2 linked regions of the Homo sapiens genome follow. The protein of the gene in region 2 purifies or fractionates together with the protein of the main gene of each other region. This does not show direct contact. Each region holds a gene or a part of one and is shown on either strand. Other genes may lie near its edges.

Region 1 (3,688 bases), on a different chromosome or scaffold from region 2:
CTCCCAAAGTGCTGGGATTACTGGCATGAGCCACGGCGCCCGGCCCCTACTAAACTGATTTTAGACTCACCATTTAAAAAATATGACTCTAAAGCCAAAGGTTTCTGTTTGGAAATAAGCAGATAAGGTACTCATATGTGTTTAGACTCTGAAGGAAAAACTGGTCAAAACCAATTACTCAACAGATGAAACTTAGAACTAACTATAGCCTAAACATTAAAGACTGTAAACAGGGTAAACTGTTGAGAAAACCCAAATCCAAATAAAGTTACCAGGATATAAGAACAACATGAAAGATAACTGTAATGTAATTAAATACATTATAACTCAATGAACAACGTCAGATGACGCAATGTAATTTAAAAACATTTTTTTTTTGAGACAGGGTCTCACTTTGTCACCCAGGCTGGAGTACAGTGGTGCCATCTCAGCTCACTGTAGCCTCAACTTCCTGGGGTCAAGAGATACTGCCCCCCTCAGCCTCCTGAATAGCTGGGACTACAGGTATGCAACCACACCCACCTAATTTCTGTTTGTTTGCTTTTTTTTTTTTTTTTTTTTTTGGTATAGACAGGGTTTCACCATGTTGTCCAGGCTTGTCTCAGACTCCTGGACTCAAGCAATCTACCCTGCCCACCTTGGCCTTCCCAAGTGCTGGGATGAAAGGCATGAGCCACTGCACCCAGCCTGAAAAAAAAATTTTTTAAAGGGAGATGTGCAGGGAGAGGACGGACTAAACCAGTGGAGATGGATTATTTATTCATACTTTCATTCACTATCAAATATTTACTGAGGGACCATATATACATATATATATATATATATATATATATATATATATATATATATATATATATATACACACATAGACTGAGCAAGACAGACAGAATCCCAAGCCTCATGGAACTTACAAATTGATAAGACTGACAGACATTAAACAAAGAATTCCAGGCCGGGTGCAGTGGCTCACACCTGTAATCTCAGCACTTTGGGAAGCCGAGGTGGGCCGATCACGAGGTCAGGAGTTCGAGACCAGCCACCTGGCCAATATGGTGAAACCCCATCTCTACTAAAAATACAAAAATTAGCCAGGCATGGTGGTGCGCACCTGTAGTCCCAGCTACTCGGGAGGCTGAGGCAGAAGAATTGCTTGAACCTGGGAGGCAGAGGTTGCAGTGAGCCGAGATTGCGCCACTGCGCTTCAGCCTGGGCAACAGAGCAAGACTCCGTCTCAAAAAACAAAACAAAACGAAAAAACAAATAATTCCAAAGATATCAGTATAATAAAAGATATGATGAAGTACAACGGGCTATGAGAGTACATGAAAGAAAGAGCCTAAACTAATCTGAAGATTAGGGAAGGATGCAAAGCGTCAGGTCTTTGATGTGGGGATGTGAGGAATCTGCATGTCTAGATCTTCCTTACATAGACAGATCATCCAATTCCCTGCTTTGCTTCTCCTGCTTTAGTCCCACACTTTCCAATCTTCTGATTAAAAATATAGCTCGACATATAAATTTCTAGCATGAAGGATGTGTTGACAAGGCAACATGAGTACCTATGCAGACATACTTCCCATTAAAGAGCAATAACTGGCAGACAGGGGTGGTGGCTCATCCGTGTAACCCCAGCACTTCGGGAGGCCAAGGCTAGGAGTTCAAGACCAGTCTGGCCAACATGATGAAACTCCGTCTCTACTAGAAATACAAAAATTAGCCAGGTGCAATGATGCACACCTGTAAATCCAACTACAAGGAGGGTTGAGGCACAAGAATCTCTTGAATCTGGGAGGCAGAGGTTGCAGTGAGCCGAGATCACACCACTGCCATCCAGCCTGGGCAACACAGCAAGCCTCTGTCTCAAAAAACAAATAAATAAACAAATAAAATAAAAAAGAGCAATAACTGGCATACTGGTTTATGTATCTGTCTTTTCTGAATTTGATTAGAGAATAATCAATGAATGGGACCTAATCAACTCTGGATACACTGAAAAAAATCAGATTTCTCTGCCTGCCAAAATGAGGACCTAGATCCTGGTGACTAGATGACTTCCCTCAGGATCATTTTCTTGGCCCTCTCTCTAACTGCAAAGGATAGAGTAGGTTTCAGCCTTGGATTCCAGGGCCATGATGGAATTTTTCCTATTAGTAAATGGCAAAGTTTCCAGTAGCAGATGACAAAATGAAACTGGCATTGTAGGAAAATGGTGTTCTAGTGTGGTTGATGGACTAGAACAGGCAGTGTCAGGAAACAAGGATAAGAGGTAAGTAAGCCACTTATAAGAAAATGGAACCGGGAGGCCAAGGTGGGCAGATCACCTTAGGTCGGGAGTTCGAGACCAGCCTGATCAACATAGAGAAACCCCATCTCTACTAAAAATACAAAATTAGCCAGGCATGGTGGCAGGTGCCTGTAATCCCAGCTACTCGGGAGGCTGAGGCAGGAGAATAGCTTGAACCCTGGGAGTGGCGGTTGCAGTGAGCCGAGATCACACCATTGCACTCCAGCCTGGGCAACAATAGCGAAACTCCATCTCAAAAAAAAAAAAATAAGAAAATGGAACCTAAACTAGGATGAGGGCAGTACAGGAGGAAGAAAAGGTCTGTTAGTAACAGAAAGGACTCAGAATTGGTCATCAAATGGCACATGGTATAAAGGGAAGGTATTAATGATGACTCCTATGCAAATCTGAAATATACCTTACCACAGACATTTCAGAAATCTGATAAAGTGCTGACAAAAGTTAATTTTCTCTCCCTCATTTTAAATATTAATATACAGTAGGACCTCTGAAAAACCAATAAATTTCCTTGTACTATACATATTTAGTGTAATAAGCTCAGTGAATGGTAGAGAAAAATCCAATTTTTCCCCCAATAATGGTAGGCATCCAATTAAAGATCAAAACTCTACAATAGGCCGGCTGCAGTGGCTCACACTTGTAATGCCAGTACTTTGGGAGGCCAAGGCGGGCAGATCACTTGAGGTCAGGAGTTCGAGACCAGCCTGGCCAAAATGTCAAAACCCTGTCTCTACAAAAAATTTTTAAAAAGTAGCCAGGCATGGTGGCGTGCACCTGTAATCCCAGCTACTCAGGAGGCTGAGGTGGGAGAATCGCTTGAACCTGGAGGCAGAGGTTGCAGTGAGCCAAGAGCGCACCACTGCACTCCAGTCTGGAAGACAGAGTGAGACTCCATCTCAAAAAACAAACAAACAAAAAAACTCAACAATAAAAAAACAGGTTCACTGGCCTACTTAGTTCGTCATTAATATCAACATAGCATCAAAGGGCCAGGCAAGGTGGCTCGCACCTGTAATCCTAGCACTTTGAGAGGCTGAGGTAGGCCTCCCAAGCAAGGTTCAAGGAGCTTAAGTGCAGGAGTTCAAGACCAGCCTGGGTCACATGGCAAAACCCTGTCTCTATTTAAAAAAAAAACAGGCCGGGCGTGGTGACTCATGCCTGTAATCCAGCACTTTGGGAGGCCGAGGTGGGCAGATCACAAGGTCAGGAGTTCAAGACCAGCATGGCCAACATGGTGAAACCCTGTCTCTACTAAACACACACAAAAAAATTAGCTGGGCATGGTGGCTAACACCTGTAATCCCAGTTACTTGGGAGGCCGGGGCAGGAGAATTGCTTGAACCCAGGAGGCAGAGGTTGCAGTCACCTGAGATCATGCCATTG
Region 2 (3,688 bases):
GATAGAGGACAGCATAATATGGCTAATGTAACACCTGTACAACATAGTAGCATATTATATAAGCTATACTTCTGATTTTTGTTTTATGTTTTTATCAAGTCACTACAAAACTGGATCACATATTTAGACTTATTTAGCAGAAAATCATATTTTCTTTCAAGTTAATCAGAATTAAAGAAGTAGGCTTTGTTGACTATAGAACCATGGGAGTGTCTTGTCAAGCAAAGGCAAAATATAAATTTAGGAGAGGTATGGGACAGTGGTAAACATGAGTTCTCTTTGGAAAGAAAGAACCAAGTTTCTAGGGCTGTTATTTGAAATATGTACTGATTATATTATATAGACTTAACAGTGATACACATAAAGAATCCCTTGCCAGACAAACAAGAAACTAATAACTAGAGTCTACTTGGAGGAGACTGGAGGAGAGTTAAGAACTGGATAAATGGAGAAGAATGGGGGGGAGAAATATTTTTATGCTATACAATTTTACACTACTATTTTTTGAATCATATGAATGTATTTTCTTTTTATTTAAAAGAGAAAGAGAAGGTGGCTTGGTACTGATACTTCCTTTATATCCTTGTAGCAATGAGTGTCCGTGTCTATATCTGATATGAGCAGAGGAAGCACCTTGAAGCTCTGAGGGATGAGGAATTAAATAGTTTTTATTGATAAATGCTGTCTGTTCACTGCTTGTGAGGGTGTGGATATTTCAGAGAAACAAAGCAAATGTGTAACTCATATCCTTCGACATCTGTCAATTTTTTATTTGTTATCTGAATTAACTGTGTGTAAAAATGAAATTAAATGTTTTCTTTAGAGCTAGAAATGGTAGCTCATGCCTGTAATTCCAGAGACTCAGGGGATTGAGGCAGGAGGATTAATTGAGCCCAAGAGTTTGAGATTTAAATGAGCCATGCATGATCACACCACTGCACTCAAGCCTGGCTACAGAGCAAGATCCCAACTTCAAAAAATGTTTTGCTTAAAAAATATGATGCACAGCTAAAAAAAATATATTAGACATGCTTAATACTGTAGGGGAGGTAGATCATGCCCACATAACCCATGGATCACAGTTCAGATGGATGTTTTGAATCTGTACTTGATCATGGGAGCAGAAGTCTCGGGTGGGAGGGGAGACTTTAAAATAATTTCAGTAACAGTTGAATGAAAGGACAAGAGCAGATCAGAGCTCTTTGCTGTATAATAGAGAAAAGAGAAACGCTGAGAGGAAGAGAAGGTTGGGAGGGTTCTTCCAACCTGAATATCAGCTAGGTAGATAGAGATAAACGGATGACTCAGAGAGGTAGCCATTTACTTAACTAGTGATCTGTAGAGGCGGTTTAAAATTCTGTGTGTACTTCATTTATTTTTTTTCATTCATTTTATTTTTTTCAAAAACCACTCAATCCTTAGGAATTACTCACAGCTGTGCTGTGTGCATTCTCTGTGGGCCTAGCAGGGAAGGGGACAGCCCTGTGGCAATGGGCATGACACGGATGCTCCTGGAATGCAGTCTCAGTGACAAGTTGTGTGGTAAGTACGGATTCCACAGATGTCTATCCTCTGATTTTAGAATTATGAAGGCTAAGGTCTCGGTAGATTCTAGAAGGAGGATGATTTGATTTCCAGTAGAAATGAAGACAGTGGTGATAAAAGGATGGGGACTAGAGGCCATTGTCTTTTTGGGGAGAGGGTAAGTGCTAATCAGTGATCCAGATGCTGCATCTTCAATCTTGGTAAGAAACTGCCAGAAGCAACGTCATGCACATTTGATGGGCTAAGAAACAGAGTCACTGGGGTTTCTGGTTAGAGAGTTGCTCCCAGCAGTGTTTCTGTTGAATGGAAGTAGAGGAGATGGTAGAAGAGATGACCTTTTCATGTATGATGAGCTGAGAGCTGGCGGGTAGGGGAAATTGCATGAACACCAGGTTAGGCTTCTTCATTCTCTTCTCTTCCTGTGTGATCGCCTACCCAGTCATCCAGGAGAAGCAGTATGAAGTGATTATCGTCCCAACTTTGTTGGTTACTATCTTCCTCATCCTTCTTGGGGTCATCCTGTGGCTTTTTATCAGAGAACAAAGAACTCAACAGCAGCGTTCTGGACCTCAAGGTAAAGCTCAAACTTTGGGGCTGGGCAGGGGCTTAAAGAAGATGGAGATTAGGAAAAAGTATGGTCTAAGTTTCAATGAGCCCATGTCTAGAAGTCTAGGTACCTGCAATGAGAGAGGCATGGGTTCCCTCCCATGGAGTTGAGAGGGGGATGATCTCTTTTCTAGGAATTCCCGAGTTGGAATTCAACACGTGCTTACTGACTGAAAAAAGAGTGTGCAAGAAAAACCTCATATAACCTGTTTCTATTCCTGTTGGACTATCAAAACTTTGACTATATGAGTGCCTAAGGACCTAGGAGAAAGACCTAAGGGGGTAAAGTCCAAGGCTTTATGAACATCCTAGGAGGATGACATATCACCCTATGATACGTTCCATTCCTAATCTTTGCCTCCAGGATATATGATGGAAAGGAGGGGCCTTTATATTATAACAGTCTTTGAAGTGCTAAGTAGATGATAACAGTCTGTTCTGGAGTTCCACTGAGCATATAATAAAAGGGAATCAATTCACAGATGAAACTCAGGGTAAAAAGAAGGAAAAAGAAAACTCTCATAATGATATGAAACTCTATAGTGGCTAATCCTTAGTTTTTCTTTAAATTTTATCCCAATAGTCTTATACTTCACTTTTATAGAAAACTTCTCAAACAAGTTGTCTAAACTCACTCCTACTACTTCTACTCATCACATTCTCTTTTGAACACACTAAAATAAGGTTTTCATCTCTACCACTTCGCCAAAACAAGTCTTTCCAAGGTCATCAATGACAGCTGCATTGAAAAGTCCAATGATCAATTCTTAGTCTTCGTCTTACTTGATCTGTCAAAAGCATTTGAAACAATTTTAAACTTTCTCTTTCTTGAAATACTGAAAAAACTAAAGCCACTTCCTAAATGCTATAATTTTTAGTCTTATGGATTCAAATACATTTTCTATTCCAATGATAGTCCCTTGAACTCAATTCTCATATTAAACCACCTACTGCACAGTTTCAATGGAATACAAATCTCATATGTAATATGACCAAAACAAAGGTCCTGAAATTCTCTCATAAATGTCCTCCGCAAATAGTCTTGCCTATCTTAGTAAATGGCAAGTCCTGTCTTCTGTGTTTTCAGTCTCAAACCTTGAAGATATCAGTCTCAAACCTTGAAACACAGTTTGAGACTGTGTTTTCAGTCTCAAACCTTGAAGATAACTCCTTTCTTTCTCTCACAGTCTGTATCTAATCCATAAGCAAACACTGTTACCCTATTTTCAAAATAAACCCAAGTTACTCTCACATCTCACTGATCACTGCAACACACTCTTAACATTCCCTGCTTCTGCCCCTACTCCTTTATAGAAATGCCAGAATGAGTCTTTTAATACAGTCAGTCCTGTTAGTTATCTGCTTGAAATCTCTCTTCCACACACACACATGCAGTAGCCTCCCACCTTGCTCAGAATGAAAAATGACAAAATTTTTTCCATGGCCTTATGTGATCTGGGCCTCCCTGGCCTTGTCTCCTACTACTCTCCAATGATCCCACTTGGCTCCAGCTACACTGGCTTCCTGGCTATTTCTC

The links. The genes of interacting proteins can lie anywhere in the genome.
Region 1: the proteins of STYK1 (region 2) and NUP205 purify together in Homo sapiens (affinity purification with mass spectrometry; one large-scale study listed by BioGRID and IntAct). This does not show direct contact.

The regions. Positions count from the first base shown.
Region 1 is NC_000007.14:135,564,301-135,567,988, reverse strand, and holds part of NUP205 (nuclear pore complex protein Nup205), read right to left. Parts: intron 1-3,688. UniProt on the Homo sapiens protein: Plays a role in the nuclear pore complex (NPC) assembly and/or maintenance. May anchor NUP62 and other nucleoporins, but not NUP153 and TPR, to the NPC.
Region 2 is NC_000012.12:10,632,421-10,636,108, reverse strand, and holds part of STYK1 (tyrosine-protein kinase STYK1), read left to right. Parts: intron 1-1,422; 5' UTR 1,423-1,490; coding exon 1,491-1,542; intron 1,543-1,984; coding exon 1,985-2,119; intron 2,120-3,688. UniProt on the Homo sapiens protein: Probable tyrosine protein-kinase, which has strong transforming capabilities on a variety of cell lines. When overexpressed, it can also induce tumor cell invasion as well as metastasis in distant organs.